3 separate regions of the Homo sapiens genome follow, and all the other regions are linked to region 1. Evidence: fine-mapped expression QTL. A gene starts in region 1. Each other region holds a variant in brackets. All regions are shown on one strand. Distances are between the middles of the regions.

Region 1 (8,184 bases):
TGTATTGTTTTTTTTAGTAGAGACAGGATTCCACCATGTTGGCCAGGATGGTCTCGATCTCCTGACCTCGTGATCCACCTGCCTCGGCCTCCCAAAGTGATGGGATTACAGGCGTGACCCACCGCACCCAACCTATTTTTTTTGAGATGGAGTTTCACTCTTGTCCCCCAGGCTGGAGTGCAGTGGAGTGATCTTGGCTCACTGCAACCTCCGCCTCCTGGGCTCAAGCAATTCTCCTGCCTCAGCCTCCCAAGTACCTGGGATTACAGGTGCCCACCATCACACCTGACTATTTTTTGTATTTTTAGTAGAGACAGGGTTTCGCCATGTGGGCCAGGCTGGTCTCCAACTCCTGACTTCCAGTGGTCCGCCCGCCTCAGTCTCCCAAAGTGTTGGGATTACAGGCATGAGCCAACCATGCCCAGTCACTTTTTTATCTTCAGTTATTTTTACTTTTTATATATTAATTTCAGAGTATGAAAAAAATCCAGTGGAGTTGCTTTTTAAAGGAAAAATACACACACACACACACACACACACACACACAGAGTCAGCTTCCAATGGCTACGTCTTTACCAACATATGTAACTGGTAATGTGGATAACTCACAATGTAGCTGTTTGTCCCTGAGTTCTGGGCATTAATAAAATCTCCAAGAAAAATAACAAACTACTCTATTAAAGGATAACTATTCAAGACCTCCATCCAGCTCTCTTAGTCTTCTAAACTATGAACACAGCTCATTACCTCTCAAAATGGGCAGGACATCTATCCACAAGGGAACTGATCCACCTGCTGACTCACTGGCTGGCACAGCCCGGCACAGGAAAACCACCTGCAGGGGGTCCTCAAACAATGGAAACTGCACAGCTCTGTATTCATCACAGACCTCCGGCCAGGCCTGACACCCACCCCTGTCTCCAACCTTGCCGAGTCCTCCCCTTTCAACCTTAAACTTCTTCAACTTGGTCCAGTGGAATGGCTCCTTAAATTTCTCTTGTATCTTCACCTTTCCAGGCATGTTTTATGCTTTTCCTAAGAAAGAGAGAGCCTCCTTGCTAAAGTGGACCCCTTTACCAGCATGCTTTATTTCATCCCCTTCTGCCTAATCGTTAGCAGGAGTTTGGCCTCTAAAAAGTCAGAGCAACTAAGTTCAAAGCTACTTCATAGCTGAGTGACCTTGGGTAAGTCACTCATCCCTCTTCCCCTTAGTTTACTCAGCAGAAGCACCAAGATTTCTTGAGGCTTTGGCTTGGAACAGAGTCAGGCTCAGTTCTGCTGTGTTCCAATGGCTAAGGCAAATCAGAGGCCCAGTCCAAACTCAGGGAGAGGGAACCACACAAAACCCTGAGCACCAGCAGGCAGAGGCCACCAGAGTAACAGGCTATTACACACACAATAAGTAAGTGCTCACTAAGCATGGGCTGTCTGTCTTAGCTAATAATTTTGTTTCTTAAATCCAGGAGAGTTGTTTCTACAATGGGTTTTCACCATGTGCAAACCACAGAGAGGGCCTAGAAAGCCATATGTTGCTAAAGAGCACATAGGTCTCATTTTAGAAGATTTAGAGAAACCAGAGGGCAGCCCTAAGCCCCACAGTATGGATTTCTTTATGAAGCCAGCCCAGCCATCCCAGCTGCCATTCTTAAATGACGAACAACCTTGGCAAGGCAGTTGCACCAATCTCAGAGGGCAGGCATATATATGGCAATGGGTCAGTGTTCCCCACTCACAACCATGTTAACATGCAAACCTGTCTCAACACAGCAGGAACCAATCATCATTTCTGCAAAGTGTTGTAGACAACAGATGAAAAATGGTATACACTGTACCGTACTGAAAGAACTTTCAAGGTGCTTGCAGCAAAGTAAGTTTGAAGACAGAAAATAAGCCCATGAAAAAACAGACAGGAGGGTGGGAGATGGAGGACTCAGGACAGAAGTCATCTTATAATCTCCAAAATGTAAGCAGAGTGTGCTGTGTTCATTGTTGATCCCCAGACCCTAGAGTAATGTCCATACATAGGAGAACTGTGTGGAATTGCTCAGAATCATAGGAAGCTAGAACTAACAGGTTATAGGTCGGGCACAGTGGCTCAAGCTTGTAATCTCAGTGCTTTGGGAGGCTGAGGCAGGAGCATCCCTTGAGATAAGGAGTTTGAGTTTGAATCCAGCCTGGGCAACATAACGAGACCCCATCTCTTAAAAAAAAAATGTTTTTAGTATTAGCCAGGCATGGTGGTACACACCTGTAGTCCTAGCTACTTGCAAGGCAGAGGCAGGAGGATCGCTTCAGCCCAGCAGTTCCAGGCTGCCGTGAGCTATGATAGTGTCACTGCACTCCAGCCTGGGCAAAAGAGCGAGATCCTGCCTCTTAAGGCAAAAAAAAAAAAAAAAAAAAAAAAAGAATAGGTTAGAGCTGTTGAAGAGAATAACACTGCAAAAGCAAACTGAATTAACTGTTTTACACATTTATTTAACTCTTTAAACTAAAATGTAGGGGATGATGTGCATTTTTCACATAAATAAGCTTTTCTACTGTGTCCAATTAATGTTTTCCCCTTTAGGTTTATTATTAAAAGGCAGTTCTCTCTCCACACCCTTGGGAACCCAAGGCTAAACCAGGAAGGGCGGGCTCAGGGAGGAGCCAGGAAGTGGAGCTAATTCACCAGTCTGCCACCTGTAGGCTGGTTCCAGCAGACTTAAACCTCAGTGCCCGCTAGACAGACATGAAAACAATGCATATTAAATAATGGTAAAAACTGAGCAATAGATGTGTGAAAACTATATAGAGAGGGGCATTTAAATCATGGCTCCCGTGTGCTTGCCTCCAACCTCCTCTCTTTTCTTTGAATACTCCCAGCTATGACCACACAGTCTGTTGTTCCTATTCAGCTCTCCAAGGCTCACCCTTGATCTAAAATACGCTTCGAAAATTAATACTCCCATTAGGATGAACAACCACACCTGTATCGATCGAGGTGTTCCAGAGGCAATTTTGCTCAGATCTTATGGTAAAAGCCATGCAATGAACTTAAAAAACAAAGACCATTATGAAATAAACAAATAAGCAAAGCTGGACGAATTTTTCAAATTTTAAAACTCAAGAACAAATAGCAAACATTAGTTTTAAAGGATTGGTTTGGATTTCTGTAGATGGAAGTAAAACATACTGAGTTTACAAGCCTATGCGATGTATTTCAGCACGATCCACCAAATGCAGTTACAGATGTCAAGAGTTCTCAGAACAAGTGCCTCTCTTCATAAATATCTGCTCTGCATATATATCTCTCCCATTCCCATAACGTCCATTCTTTGTTAATATAGGAAAAAAACCGACTTTCATCAAAATGCTACAAAACGCCAAAAATTAACTCTTGGGGACAGTCACTTTAATCGAGACGTCTTTCTTCTATGGAGATTTGTTCACCACTGGCTTCTCTGATTTGGTGGTTAAGAGTCTGAAAATCGGTCATCCTTAAGGTCTGGAGCTCAGAAAGCACGCCGCCCCCCCTTGCCTGCCCCCTGCCCCAGGACGCCGGATGCGGGTCGCCTGCCCAGTCCCGTCGCCCACAAACCACGCCGTTCTGGGCGGACGCGGGAAACCAGAAGTCCCCGAAGCCAAGTCAGCGAGCGACCACAGGGGCCGCCCGGCCGATCCCCGATATCCGGGCTGACCCAAAACCCGACGGGAGGCGCCCCTCCCCCGCCCCCCCACCCCACCCCCCACCCCCACCGCCCCCGGTCAGGGCCGCCGCGAGGGTGAGAGGCGCGCCCACATGCTGCTCCGCTCCGGGTTCGGCTCCCACCTCCTCGCCTCGGCCGCGGCCGCTCGGATGGCGAGGTCGTGTCCCCGGCGCGCGCGGTCCCCGGCGCTCCCTCCGGCCGCTGCGGGCTCGGAGGACGGCGGGCGCCTGGCTGCTGTTTCCTCCAAGAAAAGTAACTCCGGGAATCAGCGCAATAGGAGCGGGAACGCGATGCTCCGAGAGCGGCGAGCCGGGCCCTGGAGTTATTCTGCTCGGAGTTTCGAACTGCGCCCCGCGCTGCAGCTACTCGGCCCCGGCGTTGGCCGCCGGAACTTGCCGCCCGCGGTGGCGTCCCGGCGGCCGCAGCGCCTAGCCCCCCCGGCCCGCGCAGTCCCCGGAGCCCGTCCCCGCCTGGTCGCGGACACTCACCGAGAAGCCTGCCCAGAAGGGGCAGGAGTGGCGGACGCGGGCCGAGGTGGTGAGCGCCAGCGCGGCGAAGCTGACTGCCACGATGAGGCATCCGAGCGCCATCTGCGTGGCCCCGAGCGCCAGCACGATGCGGGAGCGGCCCGGGCACTCGCGCAGGCGGGACAGGCTGCGGGGCAGCGCGGCGGGACGCGGCGCTCGGGGGCCGCCGGCCGGAGGCATCGCGCCGGGCGCCCGCACGCCTCGCCCGCTCCCGCCCGGCCCGGCGCGCGCCGCCGCCTCTCCTCACAGAGGGTCCGAGGCAAGTTGCGCCGGGTGCAGGGACGGCCTCCCAGCCGGCTGCCAGGGCTGCGGCGGCCGCGCGCCGGGAGCGGGCCGGGCCGGGCGGGGAGCCGGGCGCCCGCAGCCCCCGCCGGTGCCCGCGCCCATGCCGCCGCCGCCGCGCCGCCCGCCCGCCGGCCGCGCCGCGCTGCGCCCTCCCCCGCCCGCCCCGCGCGCTCCCCGGCCCGAGCGCGGGCGCGAGCCGCCGCCGCTGCTGCCGTACCGGGCGCGAGCCGCTGCCGTCCCCGGGCGCGAGCCCCGCCGCCGTGCGCTGGGCCCCAGCTGGGGCGGGAGCGGGAGCCGGGACCCGGGAGCCGGGAGAGGGGCGGGGAAGGCGCAGGTGCGGTCCTGGCGTCCCAGCCTCCGCGCTCACGCCTCGCGCCCTGGCGGCTGCAGGTCTGCGGAAGGAGAGCGGGGGCGGCAGCGCATCAAGGGCAACGGCATCAGCCTCCGCGGCGGAGCCCTGGGTCGGCTGCGCGGAGGGGCCCGATAGCGGCAGCGGGCCAGCCGAGCCTTCAGAGCCTGGGGACGGCTCGGGATGGGCGCGCGGGGCGCTGAGGACGGGGAGACGGGCTGGGAGCAGACAGGAGGGAAATTCCGAGCGCTGGGCCGCAGGTGTGGCGAACAGGAGCCTCTTGAATGCAAAAATCCAAGATCCAAGATGCTGCTTTTCTGCAGTTCGAGAATCTCCCAAGCCATCCGCTGAGAGAACTCAGCTCTGGAGGACATTCCGAGAACATTGCCAGGACACACACGATGTCCCTTACCCACCTTTGGTTTGCATGCTTTTGATACAAGTTAAAAGTTTGGGCTTTAAAAAAAAATTGCACAAAACGAATTTAAATGCGCAATATCATTAATAACCGATTAAACCATCTCCACTCCCTCTTGCCAACATAGAGTTTAAAATATCTAAGTACTGGCTCCCTTGGAATACCGGGAAATCCTGCAAGTTTTGATTGCCATAATTCCTTTGTGGCCCTGTTGATGAGCCAACTTTAAGACTCTGCTTGTGTTGAAAAGGGCTGCATTGACAGATTAAGAGATCACCAGCGTTAGGGAGTCTGAAGGGACCAGACGTGAAAAGGCAAAGTTCAGAGTAATAAAGGGAAACGGCCGGTCATTTCCTGAGACCATTCTTCCGTGTCTTTCTAGCAGACCTTACTGTTGGATGAGAAACGCTAGAGAGTGTAGTCCCAAAATATCTCGGTTGCTGGTGCTTGAAATTTCACCGTTAGAGATATTGATTCCTTTGGGGCTTGACGATCCTCTATTAAAATGCAAATTCCCCTTGAAGGGGCTATAGCTCAAGCCTTTATCAGCCAACACTTTAGCAGGGATGGGATTTATTTTCCAATTTAACGAGATGGCCAAGGGATGAACAGGGGGTAGGGAATTCCACAGATAGAGTGACTGATCTCAAAATGCTGGCCCGTGGCCAAACGCTGCCTTCTCCCCCAGTTCTTATCTTTAACAGGACTAAGCCTCTGGCCGGCATTGTTTAAAGCACTCCAGTACAAATTCCAATTTCCTGGAGACATTTTCTGCCTAGAAGTTCGCAGTGCAGCACTTTTTAAGAGCTTGAAACAATACAAGGCATGACCCTGGACTGGCAGGAAGTTATGTTCGCATTTGATCATCTCCCCCATTCATTCATTCATTCATTCATCCGTTCATTCATTCCTCCAACAAAAGTTCATAAAGAGCTCTCTAATCATAAGGCTTTTTTTTTTTTTACGTTCTTAGGGTACATCAGTGAACAAAACAGACAAAAATCCCTGCCTTTAAGGGATTCAGAGAGAAACACACAATAGCCTAACAAATTAGTGAATTACAGTTTATTGACATTGTATACTATTCAAAAAATAGTATACACCCACTATGTGCCAGGCACTGAAGATCGAAGAATGAGTTGCAAGCCCCCTGTACTCAGAGAACTTTCGGTCTAGTGGGAAGACTGGCGGCACACTGGGTTCAGTGTTATGGAGACTACACAGTGCCCCCCCAACCCCACCCCCACCAAAAAAAAGGAATCAGATGATAAGGAGATTTGAAAAGAGTTTTCTGACCACAATACCAAAAATGGGTTGAGGGGTGCCCAAGTGAAAGAGTGTTCAGAGGCTGTTACTGTCAGCTGGCAAGAGGTGATAGTGTTTTGGATTAAAGTGGGGTTAGTGGAGATGTCGAGAATTGGGTGTGTTTGGGAGATGTTTCGGAGGTGTCAGTGATGAATTAAACAGAAGGGGGAGCCAGTTGGTGACCTCCAGTGATCTCCCATTTATGAATGAGAGATGCTTCCAAAATATATGTGAATTGATTTGTTTTATTTATTTATTTAAGAAAGGTACGGAAAGAGAGCTCCAAGCAATACAGCAGGAGATTTTGGTGAAGGTGGGTTAGGAGAGGGATCTACTTTCGCTGTAAAATTTCGTTTGCATCCAAAGGGAGAGACTGATCTAGAAATTAAACTTACTTCACATTTCTATCAATGAAAAAGCAGTTTTGTTGATAAAATGAAAACTTTAGACAAATAAATTTAACAGAGTTTACTTAAACAATGAACAATTCATGAATAAGGCAGCCCTCAGAATCATAAGAGGTTCAGAGAACTCCACTCTGCCATGTGGGCAGTGAGTATGTATAGACAGAAAAAGATTGAAGAAAGTAGAAATGAGGAACAAAAAGCAGATTAGTTGTTTCAAAGTTACTTTCCCCATAATGGTTAAAACGGAACTTCCTTATCATGTCTGCTCAAACTGGCCTTTCTGGATATTTGTCTATTCTCTCTCTTCTTTCTCTCTCTCTCTTCTCTCTCTCTCCCCCCCTCTCTCTCTCCCTCTCTCTCTCTCTCTTTCTCTCTGTGTCTGTCTTTCCCCCACCCCTCTTCCTCTCCTTCTCCTGATTTCTCATAAAGTCAGCTAAACAACCGAGTTTCAGCTTGGTGGATTAGGACTTTAGCATGACTGACTCCATTTTAATTTGGTCTGTTGGTGGGAGCTCTGTCCAAATCAATGGCCTCCAAAAATTTTTATTTCATACTATGTTTTACAGAATTTTTTAATCCTGTTGTATTAAATGCAACAGCCAAAGTTACCTTGATGAACACTTGCAATTTGGAGATATAAATAGGGAGATAAAAGTAGTTAAAGTGAGTTGATTTCATGGGAGTGAATCATAAAGAAAGAAAGGAAAGAAGAATGAAAGGGAAGGGAGGAAAAGAACAGAAAGAAGGGAAGGAGAAAGGTAGGGAGAGAGGGTGCTGGCCTGAGCTTAGCCTCCCTGGCACTGATCACGACAACTCATTGACTCTCTTTGATCTTCAGTGTTTGTCTCTTGTAAAAGCATTATAATCATACATGTCCTAGTGTTACAGAAGATTCTTGGAGACCCCTGGAACCAAGTTATGGCTTTTATTCTCCCTGGATCAGATGGGACTAATAGACAAAACCATTGTTCTTTTGGGTTTTGTTTCTTTGTTTTTGTTTTTTTAAAGACAGAGTCTCAGTCTGTCATCAGGCTGGAGTGCAGTGGCATGATCTCAGCTCACTGCAACCTCCACCTCCTGAGTTCAAGCGATTCTCGTGCCTCAGCCTCCTGAGTAGCTGGGACTACAGGCGCACGCCCCCATGCCCAGCTCATTTTTGTATTTTTAGTAGAGACAAGGTTTCACCATGTTGGCCAGGATGGTCTAG
Region 2 (8,184 bases), 150 kb before region 1:
GGAATTCCAGAGATGGCAGAAAGAGGGAACCCGGGCTGACAGCTGTGTACAGGCCTAGAAAGCCACCAACCCAAGAGAAGAAAATGAGTCCTGGAGAAGAAAATGGGAACAGAAAGATAACCTACTAGAGCTGAGCTGAGTCAGTATTACTGAGAGGCTATTGCAAGAGGAGCTATTGATTAAGGCGAGGCAAGTACTGACTTCAAGAGTAAGTTAGTGAAAGTGAACATACCACTCTACACAGCTCTGCAGTGAATAATATCTGCATAGGTATAAATCCAAATACTGACTAAATTAAACTTGTAACATACCCACTCTGGAGGATGAGGAAGGGGAACCAGAGAGAAAATGAAAAGCTAAATCCTCACTGCCATAATTAGAAACCTACAATGATATCTACAACCAATTAATCAAAGATAGCAGAATTTGTATCTTATTTAGAAATGTGGAGACGTAGTAAGTCCCAGGGAAAAAAGCTGAATTAAAAGTAGTTGCCTCTGCACAAGTTAGAGCAGGGAACTACTGGGTTTTCCTATTTGCTATTTGACTTTTTAAACTATGTTTTCATTTCATTAGATGACATAAAAATTAACTTTAAAAACACATAGACATGAATATTTTTCCTTAGTAATATGAAACTTACAATGCTCAAACTACGTAACACTAGCATCTATAAAACCTACAGGAAAACAGCTGATCATTTTACATTTAACTTCTTTTAATATAAAGAGAGCTTACTCTCCTAAATTAAGCCAAAACTCCCAGATCTCTCAATTTTTCATGGTGCCATGGGAAAAAGCAAATCTGATGTTTCTACCCTCAAAATACCAAAAGGATTAACATCAGCTAATTTCTTCAATTATGACTTCATGAGTAACGGACTCTAAGTCCTGGACAGCAGCCAACATCCTGCCAGATGCTAAAGACAGCATGGTGGAGGCCTGAAAGAGAACTCAGAATGAGGACATGGGGCCGGGCACGGTGGCTCACGCCTGTAATCCCAGCACTTTGGGAGGCCGAAGCAGGTGGATCACCTGAGGTCAGGAGTTCAAAACCAGCCTGGCCAACATGGTGGAACCCTGTCTGTACTAAAAATACAAAAAATTTAGCCATGCATGGTGGTGGGCACCTGTAATACCTGTTACTCTGGAAGCTGAGGCAGGAGAATTGCTTGAACCCAGGAAGCAGAGGTTGCAGTGAGCCGAGGTCGCGCCATTGCACTCCAGCCTGAGCAACAAGAGTGAAACTCCGTGTCAAAAAAAAAGAAAAAAGAAAAAAAGAAAAAAAAGAATGAGGACATGGCCACTGACTGGTGCTGAGCAGGTTATCTCTCACCCAGGATGGGGACCCCACATACCATTATCTGCTCTCCTGCCTCTCCGGGGGCTCAGCAACACTATGGCAGTGGACTTTGAATTACAGAGCAGAAAGAAAGGTTAAATTCTTGGACTTGAATAAAGAGAACGGCAGGGTAAACTCTAGGAGTTTGTAGGGGGAAAGTCAGCAAGTTTGCGTGTTAAATAAGGGTAGAGTACAAGACAACTATCCCAGTGGCTGTAAGGCCAAAGAACTCTGAGGCTCTGTAATGTCGGAAGTTGCTGGCTCTCTGCTATGCAAGGTAACCCTACCCCCACCCTCTACCATCTCACCTACAAAATCATCAGTAAATTTATCTGGACAAAGATACCTTTGTAAGAGTAGACCAGGGTGGAGTGAAGGTGACAAGGACTCACAAAGGTTTTGAGTGTGAAACTTAGGTAAGAGAGAAAGAACAGTGCTGAGACAGCCCCTGAGCATGATGGATCCAGGGGGATGGAACTTGTACTCCATGGAATTAGAAGTAAGTATGGAGAGAGTTTGGGACATTGTGGCCAATGGAACCGGTGTACCTAAGAAGGCTAGGGGATCAAGATGGAATCTGAGATGCAGAATCCAATGTATAATTTCGGGATAGGTGAGTGTGTCTTTAATGTTTTACAAAATATTAGTTTATCAAAGAACACATATAAAAATGGGTTCCACGTCAACGAGGTCTGAAAACATGACATAGTATACCCTTTTCATGCAGAGTCACGGTGCACATGAGAATAACACAGTCAAGCTAAAATGCACACCACAGGAAAGAAAATGCTTCAACCCTGAATAACCCCGCCTGCCCCAAATGTGACCTTGGAATCTTTTTAACTCAGAATACACATTTAACATCTTGTATACACAGTTGTTTACTATACATGTTAGTGAAAATGCTGGCATAGGAAATTATAGTGGGAATTCAGAGAGAGATAAGTTAGGGTTTTTTTCCTTCACAATGAAAATTCCTTCTTCTGACTATACATATAAATAGTACACCCTAATGCTGCTAAATTTAGTTAACATGAAAAATTCTAGAGAAGAATGTAAAATTCACCCACACCACCATACACAAAGATAAACCAATGGCAATGTTTAAATGTATTCATACCTAGATTTTTTGGTTTACAAAGTTTATTTGGGCCGGCGCGGTGGCTCACGTCTGTAATCCCAGCACTTCAGGAGGCCAAGGCGGGCGGATCACGCGGTCAGGAGATCGAGACCATCCTGGCTACCACAGTGAAACCCCATCTCTACTAAAAATACAAAAAAAAAAAAAAAAATTAGCCGGACGACGTGGCGGGCGCCTGTAGTCCCAGCTACGCCAGAGGCTGAGGCAGGAGAATGGCGTGAACCTGGGAGGCGGAGGCTGCAGTAAGCAGATATCGCGCCACTGCACTCCAACCTGGGCGACAGCGAGACTCCGTCTCAAAAAAAAAATTTGATTTTTTTCTAAGGACTCCGTTCACAGTACACAGTTTTTCCTTTAAAAATATATCACAGACGTATGTGGACACCCATCCTCCAATGATGTACATTCAGACTATCTCAATGGGAAAAAAAATGAGGCTTACATTGTGTCCGCAATTTATTCTTCCCCGTGGGTTCTTGGTCTTGCTGACTTCAGGAATGAAGGCGTGGACCCTCACGGTGAGTGTCACAGCTCTTAAAGATGGTGTGTCTAGAGTTTGTTCTTTCAGATGCGTCTGGAACTTTTTCCTTCCCACGGGTTTGTGCTCTCACTGACTTCAGGAAGGAAGCTGCAAACCCTCAATGTGAGTTATAGCTCATAAAGGTAATGCAAACCCAAAGAGTGAGCAACAGCAAGCTTTATTGCCAAGAGCAGCAAAAATACAAAACCTCTGCACTACCTAAGTGGACCCCATGGGGCTCCCACCGCTGACTGGGTGGCTTTTGTTCCCTTATTTGGCCCCGCCCACATCCTGCTGATTGGTCCATTTTACAGAGCGTTGATTGGTCCCTTTTACAGAGTGCTGATTGGTCCCTTTTACAGAGTGCTGATTGGTGTGTTTTTATAGAGTGCCGATTGGTGCATTTACAATCCTTTAGCTGGACACAAAAGTTCTCCAAATCCCCACCTGACCCAGAAGCCCAACTTGGCTTCCTCTTTTAATATTGCTATTGACTCTATTCTGCCCAGTCTGGGTAGGCGCCAACCTCTCAGGTGAAAGGAGCACAAGAGAAGGTAAAGGCTGTCTTGACCTGTAGTGACCCAACACCAGGTCATCCACAACAGGGAGAAGAGGTACTGAGAGGGGCCCTGCAAAGTCCTGGTTTATTTATTCCGTTGGTAACCATGAGGCAGAGGAGACACACCAGGCAGTGCCCCAGGAATCCTCAAGCTCACAGCTTTTTCAACACATTTCCTTTTCTTTACAACTGGAGTCTTTCTGAAAGTTGTCTTCTGCACAAATTGCTACCAAAATCCTCGCCAGTGTCTCTCCCACTGCAGGC[A/G]CAAGACCAGCAAGCCTTATCATGTCTGTGTCTCCAAGTATCTTGTTCTTGCTGACCAAGTCATGGTTTTCTAATTCTACTGACACAGTACATTCTATTTCCATCATCAAAACCCATCAGACAGATGACAGATCTGCAAACACCATAATGGGGTGATTATACTTTTATGACTAGTTTTTGTTGTTGTTGTTTTGTTTTTGTTTTTTGAGATGGAGTCTCGCTCTGTTGCCCAGGCTGGAGTGCAGTGGCATGATCTCCACTCACTGCAAGCTCCACCTCCAGGGTTCACGCCATTCTCCTGCCTCAGCCTCCCAAGTAGCTGGGACTACAGGCACCCACCACCACGTCCAGGTTTTTTGTTTTTTTTTTTGTATTTTTTAATAGACATGGGGTTTCACTGTGTTAGCCAGGATGGTCTCGATCTCCTGACCTCATCATCTGCCTGCCTCAGCCTCCCAAAGTGCTGGGATTACAGGCTGAGCCACCACGCCTGGCTTTTTATGACTAGTTTTAAATCTTCTTTATCCTGTTTGGAGTTATATTTTTGTATTGCATTCTATTTGATCATACGTGGACAGTCCTACTTTCCTTTACTTGGCCACTGCCAGATAGCTCTTTGCCAATGCCCTGGTCTGTTATTTTAAGCTATTTGTGTTTGTTTGTTTGCCAATAGTATCTATCTGATTTTTGCTTTTTACCCCAATCTAAAAGTGCTGTCTTTTAATAGAGGAAATTAAGTAACACCTTTAGCGTGGTAGCTAACATAACTGAATTATTTCCTAGCTTATTTACTATATTTCCTTAATTTTTGTTTCTCTAATTTTCCTGTCTTTTGCTATTTTGTTCAATTTTTGTTGTTTGCTTTTTCTAATGATTTGGAAATTATATATCAATTTTCTAACCAAAATTTTAAATCTATGTTTGAAATTATATATCTAATAAGTATATATCAATAGCATAGATATCTATAGTCTCTATGCAACATGGCAAAATTTTCTACCTCAACCTGCCTCCCAGATTTTATCAAAACAACCACATTAGTGTCAACAATTCAAACTTAACTTTATGTTTCATTGGTTTAATTGCTTACTTCTGCAGTATTTATACCAATGCTTCCTGTTTATCTTTAATAACTAAATATAATTATTAAATTTATATAATTCTATAAATTATTGAATTTATATAATTATTACATAAAGATAATTGATTATTTTAATAATTAAATAATTGATTTATTTTAATAACAAGTAAAGGTATTAAATATTTAATAATAATTTTCCTCATTTGGCTTGTGCACTACAAGTCATTTCCTTTATTCAGAAATGGTATGCAGAAATTTGGAGTCCACTGTATTTCTGAAAATCACTTTCATGTACCCATTCACATACATGAGCTTAGAAATCTTGCATACAGAAAGCCTAGAGGAATCTTGCTTAACAACCTGTTCCTTCTAAAATATGCAAATGTTGCTGCATTATCTTCTAGCATTTGACTTTATGGATTAAAATCTAGTATTAATGTGATTATTTTCTGTAGCCTGCTTTGTCTTGTTTAACGCTTATCTTTGATTTTTTTTGATTACTGAAATTCAGAAAATGTTCTATTACATGAATCAAACCTAAAACAAAAACATCTCCTATATGCCTGTCTGACGTCTTACATGTATCTTCCATGACCTTTAGCTTTTCTCTCCTAATTTCCCCATCTTGTCTCATTCCTCTCAGTTGAAAAATAGATCCCCCAGGTGATATCCTAATTCACTAATCCAATGTTGGTCATCTGGTTTCCTTCTCACAGTAACATTTTCGTGTCCTCCGTCTGCCTCCACTGCACTTGACAGTCTCTTCTTTTGCAATGTGGCACCTCTCAGATCTCACAGGTCATAAGCCAGAGTTGTTTTGAAGTTTTATTCCATTTCTCTGTTTCACTGTGTGCCATTTACTCCATTGGCTTTTGGAGTTGGTATGTGATATATCCTAAACATTCACAAATACTTCAAAATGCTATGCACACTGGGCGCCGAGTGGTCAGTGTGATGCCCAAAGCTTGGGGCAGTGCATTACATACAGAAGTAGAAGAGAATTGTCCAATCAGAATTAAACATGATGGCTTTGACCTACTGTCTGCAGGAAATAAGTGATGAGAGAAGGCCAAAGAAAACTGTAGCCATGTGGCCTCCAGATGGACCTTATTATCTTATGGGTGCTTGGTTTCTTTTTGTTCTTTGACCCTAGGTGATTTATTTTGTTATATTTAAAGCAAACTAGCAATTTCTGCTCTATAATTAAAAGTATGTGTATGTCTTTATAAACACTGAGTATATATACTATTAATTGCTGTTGTTATTTTTCCATTCTCAAAGCTTTCCAGGCCTAATCGTTATCCTGCAACAACTTTCAAAGAAGTGAGAGCAATGATTTCCTCTCCTCCACTGTTCATACGAATCATGGAGAAGCGGGGTTGAAAACGAAGACTGCCTGAGCCCCAACCCCCGGAGTCCAACTTGGGGTACCTGAGATATAGCCCTATCTGTTAGTTTCCTATTGCTGCTGCAACCAATGACCAAAAACTCAGTGGCTTAAAACAATACAAAATTATCACCTTTCAGCTTTTGAGGTCAAAAGTCCAAAATGGGTTGGGTTGGTAGGACTGAGCTCCTTCTGGAAGCTCCAGGGGAGAGTCCCTTTCCTTGCCTTCTCCAGCTTCCAGAGACTGCCCTCAGCCCTTGGCTTGTGGCCCCACTGCACTCCTGAGTTCTGCTTCCATCCTCGCCTCTCCTTCTCTGACTCTCCTGCCTCCCTCTTTCCCTTATGAGGGCCCTTGTGACTACCTTGAACCCATTCAGATACCCGGCATAACCTCCCCATCTCCAAACCCATAACTTCACCACATCTACAAAGCCCCTTTTGCCATGTAAAGTAATACATTCATAGGTTCCAGCGATTAGGAAGGACGTGGACATCAGTGGGGTTGGGGGTACGAGTCTCCCTATACACCCAGAAACCTGCACTTTGAACAAGAACCAGCAGACTGCCTGGTGAGAAACACCAAATCACACCCACTACATGGTGGCTGGAGCTTTTTCCTTTAGGACACTCTTCAGACCCATCACCTTAAAAGTCCGAAACCAACAGAGTGATAAATATCATAATATAAACAAAACACCATCCTTGACAATTTATTAAGATAAAATATTGCAGTATGTACCTAGACCTACCCAGAATTCATTTTTAAGTGGAAAGTTAAATGACAGAACAGAAATGTCTAAGAATCATTGGGGAAAAATACAAGTCAAACCCAAAGCCAAGTCCACTTTCCACAGCAGAATCAAGATGACACCCTGTGGAGACTCCGATACACTCAAAAAACATACTTCCATGTTTGTTTGTTTGAGACAGAGTCTCACTCTATCGCCCAGGCTGCAGTGAAGTGGTTCGATCTTGGCTCACTGCAACCGCTGCCCCATGGGTTCAAGCGATTCTCCTGCTTCAGCCTCCCGAGTAGCTGTTATTACAGGTGCTCGCCACCACACACGGCTATTTTTTTGGATTTTTAGCAGAGATGGGGTTTCACCATGTTGACCAGGCTGGTCTTGAACTCCTGACCTCAGGTGATCCACCCTCCTTGCACTCCCAAAGTGCTGGGATTACAGGTGTGAGCCACCGTGCCCAGCCACTTCCATGTTTTAAAGCTTCACTTTTCCATCTGTCTTAAGCTCTTTTCCCAAAAAAAAAAAAGTAAAATTTCTGAATTGTTTAAATACATTATTAGGAAACAGAACTTAAAAGGCCAGTCCTCTTAGTACATGCCCAAATTCCAAATGTGTCACTATTTCTATAATAAATAGCGCCAGCACTGACAGACTTCATAATGCAGGGTTTCCTGTGCTGCCATTCACCAGCACACACAAAAGTGAGAGTAATGAAAATGTCAGGAAACGGCATCCCATTTAGAAACCAGGAAATACAAAAATGCAGCTATCAGTCATCCCTAAGGCTGGCCAAATAAAAGGTTTTAAATATAGTCACGGATCACCAGTGTCACAAGCAACAACATTCACTGCACAGAGAGGCAGCAGAATTTGCAGCATTGAGGATTTGCTGGGTGGCTGATGAGATCTGCCCACTTTGAACTTGCTCTCAACTGACATACCCAGATCTATTTTTACATTAGCTGTCAAAATGATAGGTCTCCTGCATCCTATGCCTGCACTGTTAATTATCTATCTGCCTATCTGTCTATCCATCCATCCATCCATCTTGAGATGTCTATCTATCCATCCGTCCATTCATCTATCTTGAGATGTCTATCTGTCCATCCATCCATCCATCCATCTTGAGATGTCTATCTATCCATCCA
Region 3 (8,184 bases), 170 kb before region 1:
ACTAAAAATACAAACAATTAGCCAGACATGGTGGTATGTGCCTGTAGTCCCAGCTACTCAGGAGGCTGAGGTAGGAGAATGTCTTGAACCCAGGAGGCAGAGGTTGCCGTGAGCCGAGATTGTGCCACTGCACTCCAGCCTGGGCGACAGAGTGAGACTCCATCTTAAAAAAAGGAAAAAAAAATTTACTCAGAAAAACACCTTATAAGTAAGTAATCAATAAAATGCAAAGTGGAATAAGAGGTCCCTTGCTGCCTGTCAAGCTAGCAGTGGTTAGAAAGAACAGTGGTCCTCACTTACAGGGCTGTAGAGAATGTACATCATTAAGAGGTGCGATGCTGTCAACTGGCAAAAAGTATAATAAACAAAGCATGGGCTCTATGCAAATAAATTCAAAACCCAGGATGACAAAGATAACTTGCTAAATTACTACAATTGATTCCCCAAAAGACCAAAACACTAACTGTTCCCATAAACACCAAGAAATTGGAAATATGCTCAAACAGCTGTAGGCAAAGTCTTCAAAAACTTCTACGTATGAAGATTTCCAAAGCTGTTTAAATTTTTTCTGAGCACAGAGGGAAAAAAGGGGGAACTTCCAAATTGTCTTTATAAAGGTCAGTGTAACAATCACAAACCTGTAAAATATCACAAAAATAAGGAACAGACCAGTGGCTTTTAAACAGAAGTACATTGTTTTTATTTTATTTTTCCTGTGCTGGATCAATATTTAATGAATTTCCCCCATGTATCAGGCATTGTTGGACTCTTTCAGATATTTAACTCCTTCCCCCTCATTATTTATTTGGCAAAAGTTACATTAAGTTATTCCCTCCCCTCACAAAGCAGGTTCTCCCTGACTTCAAGGGCCAACATCCAAACAAAACCAAACATGAAAGACAGAGACTCAAAAACTTAGCATTCCTCATCTACTACACATACTAGATATAAACACACAAATTTAAATGCCAAAAACTCATAGGACAGTGCATTAAAATGATAATTTTACTGGTACATCATTTTTAAATAAAAGGTTAGAAAACAGAATTCAGCAGTACATTTAAAAGAATGAAGAACATGGGGGTTCACGTCAGGAATGAAAAGATGGTTCTGCATATTAATGTGACGAAAATGAAAAATTCTTTCATTCAGTAGATGCATGGAAGACGTCCAATAGAATTTGATCTCCATCCTCTCTTTTAAAAAAGAACTCTTAGGGCTGGGGGCAGTGGCTCACACCTGTAATGCCAGCACTTTGGGAGGCCGAGGCTAGCGGATCACTTGAGGTCAGGAGTCCTAGACCAGCCTGGCCAACATGGTAAAATCCTGTCTCTACTAAAAATACAAAAATCAGCTGAGTGTGGTGGCACATGGCTATAGTCTCAGCTACTCGGGAGGCTGAGGCAGGAGAATCACTGGAACCCGGGAAACGGAGGTTGCAATGAGCCAAGATCACGCCACTGCACTCCAGCCTGGGTGACAGAGCGAGACTCCGTCTCAAAAATAAAATAAAATAAAACAAAATGATTCTGAAAGTACTCGTGTGGTATGCAGAATTATGAGATGGCCCCCAAGGTCCCCACTCCCTGGTGTACCTGCCCTGTGTAATCCTCTCCCTTGGGCCGTGGGTGGGACTGTGAATATGTATGTGATTAGGTTACGCTGCCTGACAATGGTGGATGGGAGGTCCCAAATCAGTTTGCTGTTGAGTTCATCAAAAGGGAAGTTCTCTTGGGTGTGCCTGACCTAATCAGGCAAGACCTTTGGTTCTGGGCCCTTGGTGAAGTCCCAATTTGAGGTGTAAGAAGTTGTGCTGCTGGCCTTGAAGAAGTGGGCTGCCATGTGGTGAGATGCCTCTAAGAGCTGAGAGCTTCCCCACCCACAGCTTGCAAGGAAGCAGGGCTGAGTCACACAACCCCCAAAATGAATTCTGCCAACAACCTGAAGGAGTTTGGAAGTGGATCTTTCCCTCGTAAAGCTTTTGGATGAAGATGCTTCCAGCCTCACCAGGATTTCAGCCTGCAGACCCTGAGGACAGGACCCAATTAAAACACTCCAGAGTCCCAACCCTTAGAAACTCTGAAATAATAAGGTTGAGCTGTTTGAACCTGCTATGCTTGTGGCAATTTGCCACATAACAATAGAAAACTAATATATCTAGCTAATAACACTAAAAAGGAAAAATAAAAGAAAGTTATAAACATTGGAAAGAAGAAGCAAAATCATTACTATTTGAAAATAAAGTGATCACCTAATTAGAAAACCCAAAGGAATTGATTCAGAAGAATAAGAAACCATAAGAAAATTCAGTATGTTACCTGGTTACAAAATCAATATGTTGAAAATTATAATACTATATATAGTTGTCCCTTGAACAAGAGGGGTGTTAGGGGCACCAACCTCCTGTGCAGTCAAAAATCTATGTATAACATTTTCACTCCTCCAAAACTTAACTGGTAATAGTCTGCTGTTGACTGGAAGTCTTACCAATCAGATAAACAGTTGATTAACACACATTCACATTTTGGATGTCGTATGTACTATATGCTGTATTCTTACAATAAAGAGAAAAGAAAATGCTATTAAGAAAGTCATAAGGAAGAGAAAATATATTTTACTATTCATTAAGTGGAAGTGGATCATCATAAAGGCCTTCATCCTTGTCATCTTCTTGTTGAGTAGGCTCAGGAGGAGGAGGAGGAAGAGGAGGGCTCAGTCTTGCCATTTCAGGGTGGCAGAGGTGGAAGAAAATCCACATATAAGTGGACCTATGCTGTTTAAACGCATGTTGTTCAAGGTCAACAGGATCAATATTTATTGTGCCCTGAATATATGCCAGATATACTTACTAAGTTTTTATACTTTATCCTGACAACCCTAATTAGTATGTGTGACTCTTGTGCCCGTGCACATATGTGAAAATTAAAGCACAAAGAGATTAAGTGACTTGCCCAACGTTACAATGATGGGCAGGGTTAGGACACAAGCTCTTAAACTATAGACAAACAGCTTTCCTACATATGTGCAAGCAAAGACTGGTTAGAAAAGAGAATACAATTAAAAATTCCATTTATAATGGTAAGCAAAAAGGCAGAATATCTTAGAATACACAGATTTAATAAGAGGTGAGCAGGAGCAATATCAAGGAATCCTTAAACATCTACTGGGGAACCTAAAAGACTTCATGACTAGATGGGAGGGAAATTCATTTTTTAAACAAAAAGACTAAATAATGTATAAGTTCCATGCAACTCTAATTAAAATACCAAAAAGGGGAAAAGAAAATCTACGCAATAAGAAGTGCTAGGGCAACTGGCTAGCCACTTGGAAAGAAATGAAACTTAATCTCTACGTTTCAACATTAAAATAAATTCCAGAGAAATCAAAGAGTAAAATATAAATTAAAACATAAATATTTGAGAAATTTGTAAAAGAATCTTGAAGTAAGCCTTTTAAGGCACCACACAATTTTAAGACATAATAGAAACAATTAATAAATTTAAAATGTATACGTTTATGGCTAAAAAAACCCACATTTGTTTGTGGTAGGAGGAATCTGTGTTCTCAATCCCAGGGCCTCTCTGCATCTGCATTAGAAGAACAAGTCTGTGCCTTTGACGTGTGAGGTCGGAGGCTCCTGCAGAGTGGGTGGAGTCCCGTCCCCATCCCAGAATAAACTTGGCCATGGGATATGCCTGGTGGTGAGTGGAAGTGGCACATGCCATCGCCCCGGGCCTTCTGATGCACTACGTGCTACCTCTTGCCCTCCTCCTTGCCCAGGTGGCCACTGCCCCTTCAAGCCTGGGCCCCGGAATGGACAGATGGCACAGACACAAACCCCATGAGAAGCTTGCAACCCAAAGTGGAGCCACCCCAGCTGACCTGCAAACCCAGAGGAGAAAATAATGGCTCGCTACTGTCAAGCACTGCATTTTGGTGTGGTTTTTAATGTAGCATTATTCTGAAAAGGGCCAATGAACACATTTATGGTTAAAAAAAACCCATAAAACCAAAGGCTGGTTTCAAATAGGAAAAATATTTATAATACATAAACAGACAAAAGGTTTTCTTAATTTACAAAGAGCTCGTATAAATTAATAAAAGAAACAACAGAAAAAAATGGCTGAATACGATGAATAGGATGTTTAGATTTTTAATGAACAATAAACATGTAACAGAATGCGTAGACCTACTGAATTTTCTAAAGCAAGTGAAAACAATAAGATAAGTATTTTTTTCAACGAGACTGGAAACATTTTGGTGAAGTTTTGGTAAAACCCAGTGATGGCAAAGGGCAGAGGGGAAAGAAAGTTCCTCTTAAACATTTCTTATGTTGGCATAATTTGATGTAGCCTTCCTTGGGAACAATTTCATAGCATCTCTCAAAATAAAAACTGTACATACCCATACTCAATGGTTTCAATCCTGGGAATTTAACCTGTGGATATACTAACAGAAACAGGCCAGCCTATTTACACAAGGACGTTTACTACAAAAACCTGAACCAGTGAGTAGCAATAAAGGGCTAGTTAAAAAGACTTCGGTATTTACATAGAACATGAATATGTGCATTATAAAGTTTGAGGTAGATCTATTTATGCCAC[T/G]GTGGAATGATCTCGAAGATAAATAACTGACAAGCAAGACACAGCCCAGTGTGCACTGAAGGATCTCTGTGTAAACAAGAAGGAATGGATGAATGCATTTACTACATAAACATTGCTCTCTTGGAACGACGCACAAGAAACCTAACAATCGGAAACTAGATTAAGGAGGAGGCGAGGGGGAACTTGCTTTTAAATGTGTAACTTTCTGTAATATTAACCTTTAATCCATGCATGTATTATGTTAAGCATATTTAAAACTCTGCATACCATTGAACCTAGAATTCTACTTCTAAGAATTCCCAGTATTAACCAAAGGATTATGTATTTTGGAAACTGGAAACAACCGAGGTGTGCAGCAAGAGGGAATTACATATATTCATTGGGTCCTTCCTAGTTGCTGCCATTAAATCATATTATAGAAGAATATATATATATATACACACACATATATATGTATATTGTATTGTGTGTGTGTGTGTGTGTGTGTGTGTATATATGTATATTGGAGACAAGGTCTCCCTCTGTAGCCCAGGCTAGAATGCAGTGGCATGATCACAGCTCACTGTGACCTCCACCTCCCATGCTCAAGTGATCCTCCCATTTCGGCCTCCCGAATAGCAGGGAATACAGGCATGCATCACCCGGCTGATTTTTGTATCTTTTGTAGAGAGAGGGTTTCACTATGTTGCCCAGGCTGGTCTCGAACTCCTGGCTCAAGTGATCCCCTCGCTGTGGCCTCCCAAAGTGCTGAGATTAAAGGTGTGAACCACTGTGCCCAGCCACAGGAGAATATTTAATGCCATGTAGAAACGTTCACACTAAGTGAAAGAAGAAGAAGGAAAAGCAGGTTGCAAAATGGTGTGGAAAGTGCATAATTTCCCTTCTGAGAAGCAAACAAATACATAAAGAAAATCAGCAGCTGCATCTCAAAGTTACCATGGTTATCTCCAGACAGTGAGATTTTGGCTTCCTCTTTATTTTTCTGTTTCCCATGGTTGATACACAACAGAGAAAACGCACTATTAAAACCCAAGCCAGCGACAGCTGGTTCTGCCTCCTAAGTGAGGAGGCATAACCCATGCCAGTGGGTACTAACTCCCTCTAATGTTCCCATCAGCAGGCGGGAGAGGTGGACGGGGCCAGACAAATTCCACCACTTCAATGTGAGGGCCGATGGCTTCAGAACAGGTATGGAAAGGCTCTGGAAACAATGGCGGCCAGTCTGAGTGAGAGGCAGCAAACCAGAATCCCTGCACAGTGACGGGGTCCAAGGTGGCAGGATGACCAACAAGGTGTGTAGGGGAGGGACGGGGCCTGATCTGCACAGAAAGTGGTTAGCCAGGTGGCCATGTACACTTCTATGTGGGCTGCTGCTCCTTGATAGAGAATAATGAGAATTTCAGACATAAATGCAAGCTACAAGAATAAATTCCAACCAGGACCCAAACGTATTCAAGAGCCTCTGCCCCCCTCCCTTTCTCAACCCATTGTCAGAAAAAAGTATGAAGTGGGAAGGTAGATTGCCCTGCTTGAAAAAGAGTATTACATAAACCATTTGCAAATGACTTTTATTCTCTTCTTTTAGAAATCTCCTCATGGCACAATAATAAAAACAATGTATTTGTTGATACAGAACATTAATTCCATTAAAATTGCATTATGTGTAATGAAAAGCTATCAGAGTATAATTATGCAAGCAAATTCACAGACTCACATCAACTTTTAAATCCACTGGAACTATACAATAGGAACTGAAGCTGTCTGGTAGACAAATTGCTCTTTCTTTTCCAAATCATTATGAATAAAGGCCACTGTACTAATGTCATAAACCGCACACTATTTATGCAAACTCTCAAATCCAGGACTGTTCCCTAGAGGTGCCTCTGCCTGGTTTTTCCCAGGACCAACCTGTTCTCAGACCCAGAGGCTGTGCTCCCATTCCTGACTTAGCCCCAAAGCAGGCTCCCTTCTCGGAATTCTTGCCCAGAGAGCCCAGTTGTACCCTGAAGGGAGCCTGGTTGCACCCCCAAAGGGTTGCCTGAATCCGCACACTCTCAGCCCTCTGCCCCAGCCTGGGAGCTGTGCTCTGCTCTGCTGCCCCTGGCTGGCCGCTGCAGGGCCCGCAGGCTGCTCTCCCTCCTCCCTGCTGCAGGTACTGCACCCAGGTGGCCCTCCTGCCATCTCTGCTCACACCAGGCAGCGCCACCCACAGAGACTGGAGTGCAGAGCCCATCTCCTGTCCCCACGAGGTTCTGAGAGGAGGCAGAGGGCCACCAGGACAGGGGAGGAAGGGGGCACGAGGCTGGATTCCTGCAAGGGCACAGGAGTACATCCAGTGCCGCCCACTCCCGCTGATGATAGCCCCGGTGAAAAGACACACCCTGGGAAAGGGACTCAGTCTATGCCCCTCACTCATCACCTATGTCCATCCCTGGGTTTAGACACTTCTAGGATCCCCAAACACAGTAGGGATATGGACAACTCGTGCCATGCTGGTGACATGAAGGGAACCCCCCCATCTGACTAAGTGGTCCCAGCACCCTTGTAATAGCCGTCTCCACTCCCCAGTCCTGCTCCCCTTTCCCCTCACTGGCACAGGCAGAACTCCCCTGTCTGGTCAGTTCTGGGTCGCTGAGTCCCAGGAACCCCCTTCAGCACCCAGCAGGCTGACACTGATCTTACTCCTGCTTTGCAGAAGGAACACCCTCCTGCCTTGGCCGCCCCCTTGCTTCCTCCCCCACTCACACTCCCCAGCTGCTCGTTAGTAAGGGCTCCCTCGGCCCATCATCTCCCCATACCTCCCCTCCCCTCCTCGCAGTATCTATCCTGGGAGAGCCTGTTCCCTCCCTGGCTCCATCCTCCAGGGTACCCTAAGCCTCTCTCAGCCTCTCTTCCTCCCAGATCCCTGTGTCCACCCACTGGCCTGATGGAAACATGACGGATGCCTCCCCAGCAGCCTAACTCAATACAGCCAGTGCTCCTGGAGCCTGCCCTACCTCCACAGGAGGCCCCACTCACCCAGATGTGCCTGTCAGGGTCCCAGATACCCCACGTCCCTCCCCCACCCAATCTCACTCTCAAATCCATCCAAATCAGGGACATCTACTGACCAGCTCACCCTGGGCCCCGGCCCCCAGTTCCTCCCTCCACCTGGTACCTGGCTGCCACCTGGCAGGAGAGCTACTGTAAGAGCCCTACAAAGCCCTCCCTGCCTGGACTCCTGGTCACTTCTAACCTGTTTTCCACACTGCAGAATCATCTTTTTAAAATGCAAACCTGGCTGGGCGTGGTGGCTCACACCTGTAATCCCAGCACTTTGGGAGGCCGAGGCGGGCAGATCACCTGAGGTCAGGAGTTCGAGACCAGCCTGGCCAACATGGTGAAACCCTGCCTCTACTAAAACTATAAAAATTAGCCAGGCATGGTGGCATATGCCTGTAATCCCAGCTACTCAGGAGGCTGAGGCAGGTGAATCGTTTGAACCTGGGAGGTGGAGGTTGCAGTGAGCCAAGATTGCACCATTGCACTCCAGCCTGGGTGACAGAGCAAGACTCCGTCTCCAGAAAAAAAAAAAAAAAAT

Alleles and levels. Positions count from the first base shown, and alleles are read on the strand shown. Sizes are in standard deviations (SD) of each study's normalised expression. Not every link is listed here.
With allele A in place of G in region 2, the expression in thyroid of the gene that starts at base 4,649 in region 1 is lower (small effect, 0.28 SD a copy in GTEx).

What was found.
Region 2: its variant is fine-mapped to the expression of ENTREP2 in thyroid (GTEx, PIP above 0.99).
Region 3: its variant is fine-mapped to the expression of ENTREP2 in thyroid (GTEx, PIP above 0.99).

The regions. Positions count from the first base shown.
Region 1 is chr15:29,566,331-29,574,514 of GRCh38, forward strand. It overlaps ENTREP2 (endosomal transmembrane epsin interactor 2), which reads right to left and starts at 4,649. Exons shown (of 11, transcript NM_015307.2): 1 at 4,175-4,649. The coding sequence starts at 4,393.
Region 2 is chr15:29,421,016-29,429,199 of GRCh38, forward strand. All of the region lies in intron 1 of ENTREP2 (endosomal transmembrane epsin interactor 2), which reads right to left. Among named protein-coding and RNA genes, the nearest start is that of ENTREP2, 150 kb to the right of the region's middle. The variant A/G (reference allele first, on the strand shown) is at 3,826.
Region 3 is chr15:29,397,225-29,405,408 of GRCh38, forward strand. The region is part of intron 1 of ENTREP2 (endosomal transmembrane epsin interactor 2); the gene reads right to left. Among named protein-coding and RNA genes, the nearest start is that of NSMCE3, 130 kb to the left of the region's middle. The variant T/G (reference allele first, on the strand shown) is at 4,605.